Linked DNA regions of Homo sapiens. The protein of the gene in region 3 purifies or fractionates together with the protein of the main gene of each other region. This does not show direct contact. Each region holds a gene or a part of one and is shown on either strand. Other genes may lie near its edges. The genes, in order: EMC2, SPATA7 and HSD17B4.

Region 1 (3,658 bases), on a different chromosome or scaffold from region 3:
GCAGAATATAAGGACACAGTTAAACTGTACAGCACAATCAATTATCTAGAAGTACTGAAAATAAAATTTTAAAAGACGGCAAAAAGAAAAATAGTCTGAAAGCACTCTTACAAACTAAAAATAATCATAATTTAAATGTTCCTATTGTCTAGAAAACACTACCGAATATTGTTGAAACATTAGAAAAGAATTATTGGACAGGACAAAAGAATGACTAAGCATTAAAAAAAAAATGATAAACTGAACTTCATCAGAACTAAAAACTTCACAAGGCACCATTTAGAAAATAAAATATTCAAGCAAGAGAATAGGGAGAAATATTCACAGCACATATATCTGACAAAGCTTTTATCCAGAATATATAAAGACCTCCTACAAATCAGCAGTAAAAAAGGTAAAATAACGCAATTTTTTAAATGGGTAAAGACTAAAGAAGATACTTCAAAAAGAAGTTATTTGAATATCTAAGCAAACATGACAAGGTTTTCAACCTCATTAGTCATCAAAAAATGTAAATTAAAGCCATATTGAGACAGTATTCCACACACTCTAGAATGTCTGAATTAAAAAAAAAAAAATTAACACCACCATGATTAACAGGCTCCATGCCTGCCAGCTGATAAGATTTGGTTACCTTTCCATGGCTTCAAATCTCATGCCTGTTAATCGCTTGACTCTGTGACTGCCAGGGAACTGTCTTCTCAGCTCTTGAAGACAAAACTGAAAAAATAAGGGTTGAGTAGTAATTACATTATTTATACTAAATGGGCTACAATGGATGGCCTATATAGTCTTCAATGTGTCTTCTTGAATAATTTCATTAGTGTCATCTAATAACATGAAGTGAAATTAATCAGTAACAAATAATGGATTGAAAGAAGCACTATGACATTACAGTGAAGGCAACAATCAGTTCTCAGAAACTGATCATGCTCTTAACCAGGAAAATGAACAGATTATGAGAACCACTAATAACTCTTTAAGTACTAATATCATATTATTCCTCCTTAAAAACTACTTCTATAATGTGTCAGGCCCCTACTTAAATGACAACAGCGCCTGGCGTTTTCTTCCTAATTACAGCATAAGCATTCTCCTGGTAAGAACTAAGTTTTTTAGTAGTCATCTCAAGTTCCTAGCAAATAACATAAACACTGATTAATTTTGCCCTGTTGAAATTTTATATTAATCAGCCAACCTTTCTTATTTTTTTTTGAGATGGAGTCTTGCTCTGTTACCCAGGTTAGAATGCAGTGGCACGATCCTGGCTCACTGCAAACTCCACCTCCTGGGTTCAAGCGATTCTCCTGCCTCGGCCTCCCAAGTAGCTCGGACTACAGGCGCCTGTCACCACACCCAGCTCATTTTTGTATTTTTAGTAGAGACGGGGTTTCAACATGTTGGCCAGCCTGGTCGCGAACTCCTGACCTCAGGTGATCCGCCTGCCTTGGCCTCCCAAACTGCTGGGATTACAGGCATGAGCCACCGCACCCAGCCAATCAATCATCCTTTCAATCAACATATCCTGATTTGGGGTCAGAAAATACAGACATTAAACGGATGGAATACCAATTTCTTTGAACAAGTATCCATAATTGACTCATCAACTTGACTAAATAAATAATCAAATATTTACTGAGTATCTACATTCTCAGCAACATATGAAGGATTCAAAGTTTTGGAAGTCCTAGAAATGTTAAAGATGATACAAATAGTCCACTGAAGCATATTAATGCATGTGTGACCAAAACAATGCCATTAACTACTGATGAAACTATTAACTGGTAATAAAATAAGTTTTAATATGAATTGGAAATACAGCTTCAAAGTTTGTGGCTGAAATTTGCCACACTAAGAAAAATATTCAAGTTAATCAAAAGTGAAGATATGTTCATTTATTTCTTTGATATCAAGCAAAATCATATTACTTGGTCAGTCAAGCAAGCTAACTGTATAAATAATCTTAACCATTATAAAGTTACTGTTTAATTGTGTATACTGCTTTATTAATCAATAGTGTTATCTAATTTGACTTCCTACTTTATCAAGTGATATTTGGCTATTTCAAAAAAAATAAAAATAAAAACCTCTCTCAAGACATAAAACGGTCACCTCTATGAATATTCAAAAGACTATGTCTCATAGGTTCTGAAGGTAATCCAACAAAGGTTTTGTGGAATGTTTTCATCACTAACAGCTCCACTAGAATTACATGTATAGCCAACCCAACCTTGAAAAGGACAATACTAATTCAGATGTGAATTTTTTTCAGGTATTTCAATTTTTTGTTTTTGCATATTTTCTTTCAGTTTAAATACAGAGGCAGCATGAAGCGGTACTTAAGAATTCAAGATGATAGGAACAACATTAACAGATGCCTCTGCTTTCTGATTTATAAAATAAATATAATAATAACATCAAACACAAATCAAATCAAGAAATAATTATGAAGGCTCAATAAAATCATGATGTAAAGCATTTAGCTTCGTTCCTAGCATGAGTCCAAAAACATAGCTACCATTACAGTGTTATTTTAAAAGCAGTATTAGGTTTGTTTGATTTTTTTCTTTTTTTTTTTTGAGACAGAGTCTCGCTCTGTTGCCCAGGCTGGAGTGCAGTGGCACAATCTCAGCTCACTGCAATCTCTGCCTTCCAGGTTCAAGCGATCCTCCTGCCTCAGCCCCCAGAGTAGCTGGGACTAGAGGCACGCTCCACCACGCCTGGCTGATTTTTTGTATCTTTACTAGAGACGGGGTTTCACCACGTTGGCCAGGCTGGTCTCGAACTCCTGACCTCAGGTGGTCTGCCTGCCTCGGCCTCCCAAAGTGCTGGGATTACAGGTGTGAGCCACCTTGCCTGGCCAAACATTATTAGTATTTTATGTTATGTTCTATACGTCGGGATTTTCTTATGTCAGATATGTTTATAATATTGTGTAACAGTATTGAACATTACATTCTGTGAAAGTCATTCAATAACACAAAATACAAAATTGTTTTAAACTTTCTTATTTTAAACTCTATAAAATAGGATAAGTCACTTACTAAGCAGATAAATTTCAGTAACTAAATCTTTACAGTAAAACTGGGATACTAAACAGCTACTTCTCAGGACTAATAAAAAGATATAAGATACTTTGTCCTAAAATATCTAGTTAGTTCCACTTACTGTTCAGAGTAGCACTCAAAACTAGCTATTGAAAGCATTCCATATAAGCCATACATTAAGTCTTAACTACGGTATACAATTGATGAAGCAAATTAAATATATACTTCATTTAAATACCTACCAATGCCAAGTCATCCCGACCATAGTCTAGTGCTGCAATCATCACCTGTTCATATATGATCCAAACTAGATACACATAAAGGGGGAAAAAAACTGAATTTAATATTAAAACAAACCCAAATGGAAATTAATGAATTCTAGTTTCTGATATTTCTAGAGAACATTACTTATAACTGAAAACTGATTTATTGTATTATCTCTGAAACTAAGAATGCATTCTTACATGTTTCAGCAGTGTAAAATATGTTAATGTAAGGTTAAAATCTCCAATTATTTAATAGTTTTACTGTTCTAAAAGAGTCCATACACAATACATTTTGGCCAGACATTTGGCAGCCCTGTGAGCTTTAAAACAAAATGCCTATTTGAT
Region 2 (3,658 bases), on a different chromosome or scaffold from region 3:
GAGTAGAGAGAATCCCTTTCCCACCTTCTCTTGGTGTGGCTTGGGGAGAGAAACAGCAGTCACTGTGGAAAATCTTCCCAGACTTATTTTTCCATTCTCTTTTAAGGAACAAAAACCTTAATCTGCAGGGGAAAATATCCCTTCACTTTTGCCACATAACAGAATCACAGAAGTGACATCCTATCATCTTTCCCATATTCTACTGGGTAGAAGCAAGTTACAGGTCCTACCTGCACTGAAGAGGAGGGGATTGCTTAAGGGTGTGGGTCACTGTGGGGGTGTTGTCTTCAAATTTTGTCTACCACATTGAGTCAAATAGAAGGTATGAAATAAGAAGCCAGAAATAAAAACATATTAAATGCCCCATTAAAAAGACAATGATTATCACAGCACTTTGGGAGGCCGAGGCAGGCAGATCACGAGGTCAGGAGATCGAGACCATCCTGGCTAACATGGTGGAACCCCGTCTCTACTAAAAATACAAAAAATTAGCCAGGCGTGGTGGCGGGTGCCTGTAGTCCCAGCTACTCGGAGGCTGAGGCAGGAGAATGGCGTGAACCCGGGAGGCAGAGCTTGCAGTGAGCCAAGATAGCGCCACTGCAGTCTGGCCTGGGTAAAAAAGCGAGACTCTGTCTCAAAAAAAAAAAAAGACAATGATTATCAGATTGAATAATCTGACCCACCAAATACTAACCTAAAACATTGAGATTGGCAAGTGACATTAAAAAAAAAAAAAGAAGAAAACATTAAGATCAAAAAATGGAAAATGATATACCAAGTAAATACTAGTCAAAATAAAGCTAATTTAATTATATCACTATCAGAAAATATTAATAGAAAAAGCATTAAGGTAAAGAAATTCAAAGCACAGTGATAACAGGTTCAGTTCACCAAGAAACTACCTCCTTCAGGATTTTCTAAATCTGTATTCTGTATCTCTAATATCTCTAATGTAATAACATGCATTCAAAATATGTAAATCAAAAATTAATAGTACCACAAGGAGAAATAGCTAAATATGTAAGTATGTGGAAGATTTCTCTCAATAACTGATAGATTAACCAGACAAAAATAATCAATATGATATAAAAGATTTGAATATCTGGAAAATACAAAGTTTAATGAATATACTATATATCAAATACTACATGCAAAAACTATAGAATATATTTTATTTTCAAACATATAATGACAGGACATTTTTAAAAAATTGTCCACCTACTGGGACATAAAACAAGTGCTCAATAAATTTCAAGAAATGGATATAATATAGATGTTTCCTAATCACAGTACAATTAGGCTAGAAATCTGTAACAAACAGATACTAAGGAAAAAGCAGATACAGAGATTAAGAAATAGTTCTAAATGATTTCTGGGTTAAATAAAAAAATCATAATGAAAATTGTAGGCCGGGCATGGTGGCTCACGCCTGTAATCCCAGCACTTTGGGAGGCTGAGGCAAGCAGATCACTTGAGGTCAGGAGTTAGAGACCAACCTGGCCAACATGGTGAAACTAGACTCTACTAAAAACACAAAAATTAGCTGGGCATGGTGGCAGGCACCTGTAGTCCCAGCTACTTGGGAGGCTGAGGCACGAGAATTGCTTCAACCCAGGAGGCGGAGGTTGCAGTGAGCCGAGATCACACTACTGCATGCCAGCCTGGGCAACAGAGCAAGACATTATCTCAAAAAACAAAACAAAAACAAACAAACAAAAAGAAAATTGTAAAATACTTCGAATTGAAACATAATAAAAATACCACCTATCAAAACTTGTGGGATGCAGCTAAAGCTGTACTTGGTGGAAAATTTATAGCATTAAAAATGCTTACACTAGCAAAGAAGTAAGGCAGAGAATTAATAAATTAAATAAAATTAGAGATAGTACAGCAAAATAAACCCAGAGAGAGGGAAATAAAGATAAACACAGATATTAACAAAACAGAAAACAAAATACAATAGAGAAGACTAACACAATAAAAAGTGTGTCCTTTAAAAAAACTGACTCAATCTCTGATGAGAATGATGAAGAAGAAGAATGAAGGCACAAATAAACTACCTTAGGAATAACAAGGGGAAATAATACATATTCAGAAGAGATTAAGAGAATAGTATGAACAATTCTCTGCCAAAAATTTACATAAAATGAACAACTTCCTACATAAATCTAACATTGAAATCATTCTATAATGACTTAAAAAATTGAATCAGTAGTCAAAATCTTCTCATAAAAAATACTTTAGGCCTAGACAATTTTAATGTTGAGTTCCACCAAATTTAAGGAACAAATAAACCAAATGTACACAAGCTAGAGTACAGAAAGAAGAAATAGTGCCCAGTTTATTTTATGAGGATAGCATAACCAGACACAAGGAGTACAAAAAAAGAAAATGACAGGCCAGTATCAATAATGGACAGATGCCAAAATTCTAAACAAATATTAGTAAGTAAATCTAGCAATGAATAAAAAAGGTAATGTACCATGACTAAGTTCTGTTTACAACAGGAATGCAAAGTTGGTTTAACATTAAAGTCAATTGTTTGTAATTCATTACATTAACAGATTAAAAGAGGCTCAGCATAGTGGCTCATGCTTGTAATCCTAGCACTTTTTGGGAGGCCGAGGTGGGCAGATCACTTGAGGTCAGGAGTTTGAGACCAACCTGGCCAACATGGCGAGACCCCATCTCTACTGAAAACACAAAAATTAGCTGGAGTCGTGGTGGGTGCCTGTGATCCTAGCTACTGGGGAGGCTGAGGGAGGAGAATTGTTTCAACCCAGGAAGTGGAGGTTGTAGTGAGCCAAGATCATGCCACTGCACTCCAGCCTGGGCAACAGAGTGAGACTATATATATATATATAAAAAAAAAAAAACCCCACAGATTAAAAGAGAAAAATTATATCATAATATCATCATTCCAAGAGATGCAAAAAAGCATTTCATAAAATTAATATCCATTCAGGAGAAAGGGAAAAAAAAAACTTCACAAACTAGGAATAGAACTTATTTAACCAGATGTTCGAAGGTATCACAAAAAACCTATAACTGGGGTCTGCAAACTATAACCTTCAGGCCAAATCTGACCCAATGTCTTCAGTTAATAAAGTTTCAGCAGAACACGGCTATACTCATTTATTTATGTACTGTCTATGTCTGCCTTCCAATGGCAGAGTAGTTGTGACAGAGGCCTGAACAGCCTTTTAAAATATTAACTATCTGGATCTTTACAGGAAAAATTTGCTGACCCTAAACTATAGTAAACAAAGTCAGATTGTACCACTAAAGAAGTACCTTAGAAACATTTGCTTTTAAAAAATAAAAATACTATCTTACCTTTTGTAAGGTATTAAAAAGTGACTTGGAATTATTTTTATAATTGGCTCGCATTGCAGTTTTAGTTAATTTGAACTCTTTTTCACATTGTGCTAATTCCTTTTTGAGTTTCTCTCTTCGTTGTTGGTCTGCATCTAAAAGGGAAAACAAATCTTTCAAAATATGGAACAAAATAGAAAATTGGTTTTTTGGTCTTGTTAGAGTAATAAATGGAACATTTTTCTTGTTAAAATGTTATGATATGTAAATAAAAATCCATTTATTTTCCTATATAAAGAGTTACTAACACATTTTAAAAATTATTTATTTCACATGTGCCTCT
Region 3 (3,658 bases):
TTTTATTTATTACATTTATGCAAAGGATATGGAAAGGTAGGAAATGTGTTCAGAAAATAGTGCACTTGAAATTCAGATTATGGTGGAGGGAAGTTCCCGCTAGTGCGAGGTCTAGGATAGGACCACGAGGGTGGGTGTGTGAGTTATCACAAAGGACAAGGTCATTGGAGAGAGAGCAAGGAACTGAAAGGTTAGGGAAGGATCATGTACCTGTGTGGATGTTGAGAGTACCCTGGATGATTTCATGGTTACAACCAAAACTAAACAAAACAATTGTGTTTCCAGATCTCTCACATTCTTTTCCTGTTTTGTTTTTTTTTTTTCTTTCTTTCTTTATTTCATAATTTCCTCCCAGGAAATACTCTTTAAAAAATATCTACTGTGTTTCTTAAAATAGATGGTATAATTCCTGCTAATGCAGTCTAAGGACATTTTTAAAGTCCTGAATTAACTACACTTGATTTTTAAACTTTAAAGGTACCTGTATCTAACTCAGTGTTCTCTCTTTTCCTAGGTTTTGACAAGCCCATATTACATGGATTATGTACATTTGGATTTTCTGCCAGGCGTGTGTTACAGCAGTTTGCAGATAATGATGTGTCAAGATTCAAGGCAATTAAGGTAAATGTGTATTACTACGTAATTTGAATATTACTTCCTTTTTCTATCTTTAGAGAAGAAAAGGGGTTTTAGTGATTTAATTGAAAATAGATATTGTACTACAGCAATGTACATTTTTATTATTTCATTGACCTGGCAATCAGCACACTTTCTTTTTGTAGCTATAAATAGCTCTGTTGCACATGCACCAGGAAGGATGCACAGTTGCAATTTTGACAGATTAACTGGGTTGCTTTATAAATTAATTAGGTGCATATATTATATATATATATATCAGTACGTATGCCTTGAAAACTCAAGATTTGCTTTTTTTAACTGTTTTATCATTTTCATTAATTTAATTAAAAATGTTAAGTGGCTGATTAAGTCCAATAAACATACATCTACAGCAATATAATGACTGCATATTGTTTTAACTCTGTACTTTTTAGTTGATTTCAAATTTTTATCCATTATAAATAACAAGGAAAAATATCCATGCCCATATTATTTTTGTGTATGTTTAAGCCAAAAGATGTACACTTAAAAAAGTTTAAGGGGTTGTCAAATAGCTCCAAAAGCTTTTAATTTATCCTCCATGCAGTAGTGAAAATATATTTTCTGATGCATTGCCTTTGATAACACTAATTACTCTCATGCTTTTCATTTTGTTACAACTATTTTTTATTATCCAGTAATATATACACAGAGAAAATAATATAAAAAATTATGAAATAAAAAGTGGAATTATTTTGCCCTGCATACTCACCCCAGGCCTCATTCCTTAGACTTAATTTGTACCACTTTTAACTGTTTCTTTAAGTTGTTCTGATGTACCTATATAACTCACCTAATATGATTATGGTTTTATTTCTTGATTTGTCAAGATAAAAAACACTATTTTTTGATTCCATACTTTGAAAGACAAAGAATTGGCTTACTTATATTAGTTACATCTTTATTTTACTAATTTTATCATATTATACTTAGGTCTTTTATGAATTTAAATATCTTTAAACCTTGATTTTTTTTTTCTTTTGTGCTCTCTAGTTTCCTTTCCAATTTTTTCCTCCTACAAGTAAAAGAGTTTCCTTTTAAAACATTTTTAACCCCACAATTCTTTTTTAAAGGCTCGTTTTGCAAAACCAGTATATCCAGGACAAACTCTACAAACTGAGATGTGGAAGGAAGGAAACAGAATTCATTTTCAAACCAAGGTATGAATTTTGCTTTTTCACCCTTCTCACATGCTTTATCATTGTGTTCCATCTTACCATTTTTTTTTGGTTAGTACTATGGATAGAAAGTTCTTTTTAAGTAATGGTAAATTTTAATTAAAAATAAGATACAGCTTGTCTGGTGTTTTCAAAATTTTTATTTATCAGGCAACACTTAATAAAATAGAAGTGTTTTGCACCCTGTGTTTTATTTTCTCTTTTATTTTCAACTAAATTGGTAGCTATCTATGTAGCAGTGGCCCAGCTATTCTGAAAACCCAGCCAACCATGTCTTTTTGGCTCAACTAGTCAATCAAGTCATTGTCAAAATATCATCTTAAAAAATTTAAAGGCATGACTCAGACAGATATACAGTGAAAACATGACAGAAATCTATCTGACTCATTAATGAAGGATCTTGCAATATGATAAAACATGTTCGAAAAAAAATTAGAACAACAGTTTATATGGTCCAATAGGAAAGTTATTCTAAAATAATTTTGCAGAGTTAGAGACAAAATTAGTTAATATCCTATAGAACAATAAAATCTTATCCTTTATGAGTTTTCTCTGGACAGAAATCATATGCATCTTGATTACACAAAAAATCCACAAATTAACAAGTTACATCACAGAGTCTGGGCCTAACAAATAGTAAATGAGGTTATTTTGGGGTGAGGCTGTTAGCAATGCTCCAGTAAAATACTAAAAGGACATGCAATCATTGTTTTATTTGCAAGTTATTAAAAGACAGTTTTTGTTAACACAGTTGACCAGGCTAATACTTTTTGGCTTGATCATTTCATGCTATATAGAGCATATTAAACAACTCCAATGATAATAGGAACAGCTTTCATTTATTGAGAACCTATAAACTGGCAATAGTATTTTCTTTAATATGCATAATAAATCTGTATGTAAATATAAGAAAATCTAGGTTCCTAAGAAAATCTAATCTAGGTGTCCTAAATAACTTGCTCATGGTCACACAGCAAGTGGTTGAGCTGGGATAGAAACCCGATCAGCATGGCTTCAAAGCTTTGATTACAGGCCCCAAATGTCTTTTCTGTATCATGTTTTCTTTCACAAATAGATAACTGCAAAATTCTTCTTACATGGTTGCTTTACTCCTAATTCCTTTCTGCTGGTTGCAATATCATTTTCCTGCTTAATTTGTACATATTGTTTATTTTACTTTTCAAATTCCTCCTGTCCTTCAGGCTTAAGTTCAAGCTCCACTTTGCTCTTAGAGACAGTCTCTTACTATTCCCCACTTTCCTACCCATAGATACACTCAAATTGGTGTTCTCTGAAAGCCTTTGCAGCTAATATCTGTGCCACATATTTTGGAGCCCTCACATTTTCTAATTTGTTTTGTATGAGTAAGTTTTGCTTTTTGATTAAGATTATGAACTCTAAAAGTGTTAAGGACCATGACTATATTACAGGTTTTTATTTTCCTGCAATTCTGGTGATGAATAGTATGTAAATAATTTCTATGGATACAAACTTGAAGGGCTGAGAAATGATTAAATGTCTAAATATAATGTATTCTTGCCATTTTGTTAAATTCTAAGCATGCTGTCTTATCTTTTCAGCATATTTGCTATATTTTTCTTCAGTGATTATAGATATTCTTTTTCTATTAGTTTTAGGACTCCTTCTCTCCCTGCCTCCTTTTCTCACTTTCTCCCTCCCTTCCTCCTTTCCTTTCTATTCTTAAGATATAAGAAACATTTTAAACCAGTGTTTTAAAATGATTTGCTTGATTTGGTAACAATAAAGTAATTTACTGAAGTGCATTTTGTTCATTAATTATCTCTTTCCATGCTTTTCAATGT

The links.
Region 1: the proteins of HSD17B4 (region 3) and EMC2 fractionate together in Homo sapiens (co-fractionation; one large-scale study listed by BioGRID). This does not show direct contact.
Region 2: the proteins of HSD17B4 (region 3) and SPATA7 fractionate together in Homo sapiens (co-fractionation; one large-scale study listed by BioGRID). This does not show direct contact.

What each region holds. Positions count from the first base shown.
Region 1 is NC_000008.11:108,450,124-108,453,781, reverse strand, and holds part of EMC2 (ER membrane protein complex subunit 2), read right to left. Parts: intron 3,382-3,658; coding exon of another isoform or gene 3,355-3,381; coding exon 3,290-3,354; intron 721-3,289; coding exon 635-720; intron 1-634. UniProt on the Homo sapiens protein: Part of the endoplasmic reticulum membrane protein complex (EMC) that enables the energy-independent insertion into endoplasmic reticulum membranes of newly synthesized membrane proteins.
Region 2 is NC_000014.9:88,416,523-88,420,180, reverse strand, and holds part of SPATA7 (spermatogenesis-associated protein 7), read right to left. Parts: intron 3,471-3,658; coding exon 3,337-3,470; intron 1-3,336. UniProt on the Homo sapiens protein: Involved in the maintenance of both rod and cone photoreceptor cells.
Region 3 is NC_000005.10:119,525,403-119,529,060, forward strand, and holds part of HSD17B4 (peroxisomal multifunctional enzyme type 2), read left to right. Parts: intron 1-514; coding exon 515-621; intron 622-1,730; coding exon 1,731-1,817; intron 1,818-3,658. UniProt on the Homo sapiens protein: Bifunctional enzyme acting on the peroxisomal fatty acid beta-oxidation pathway.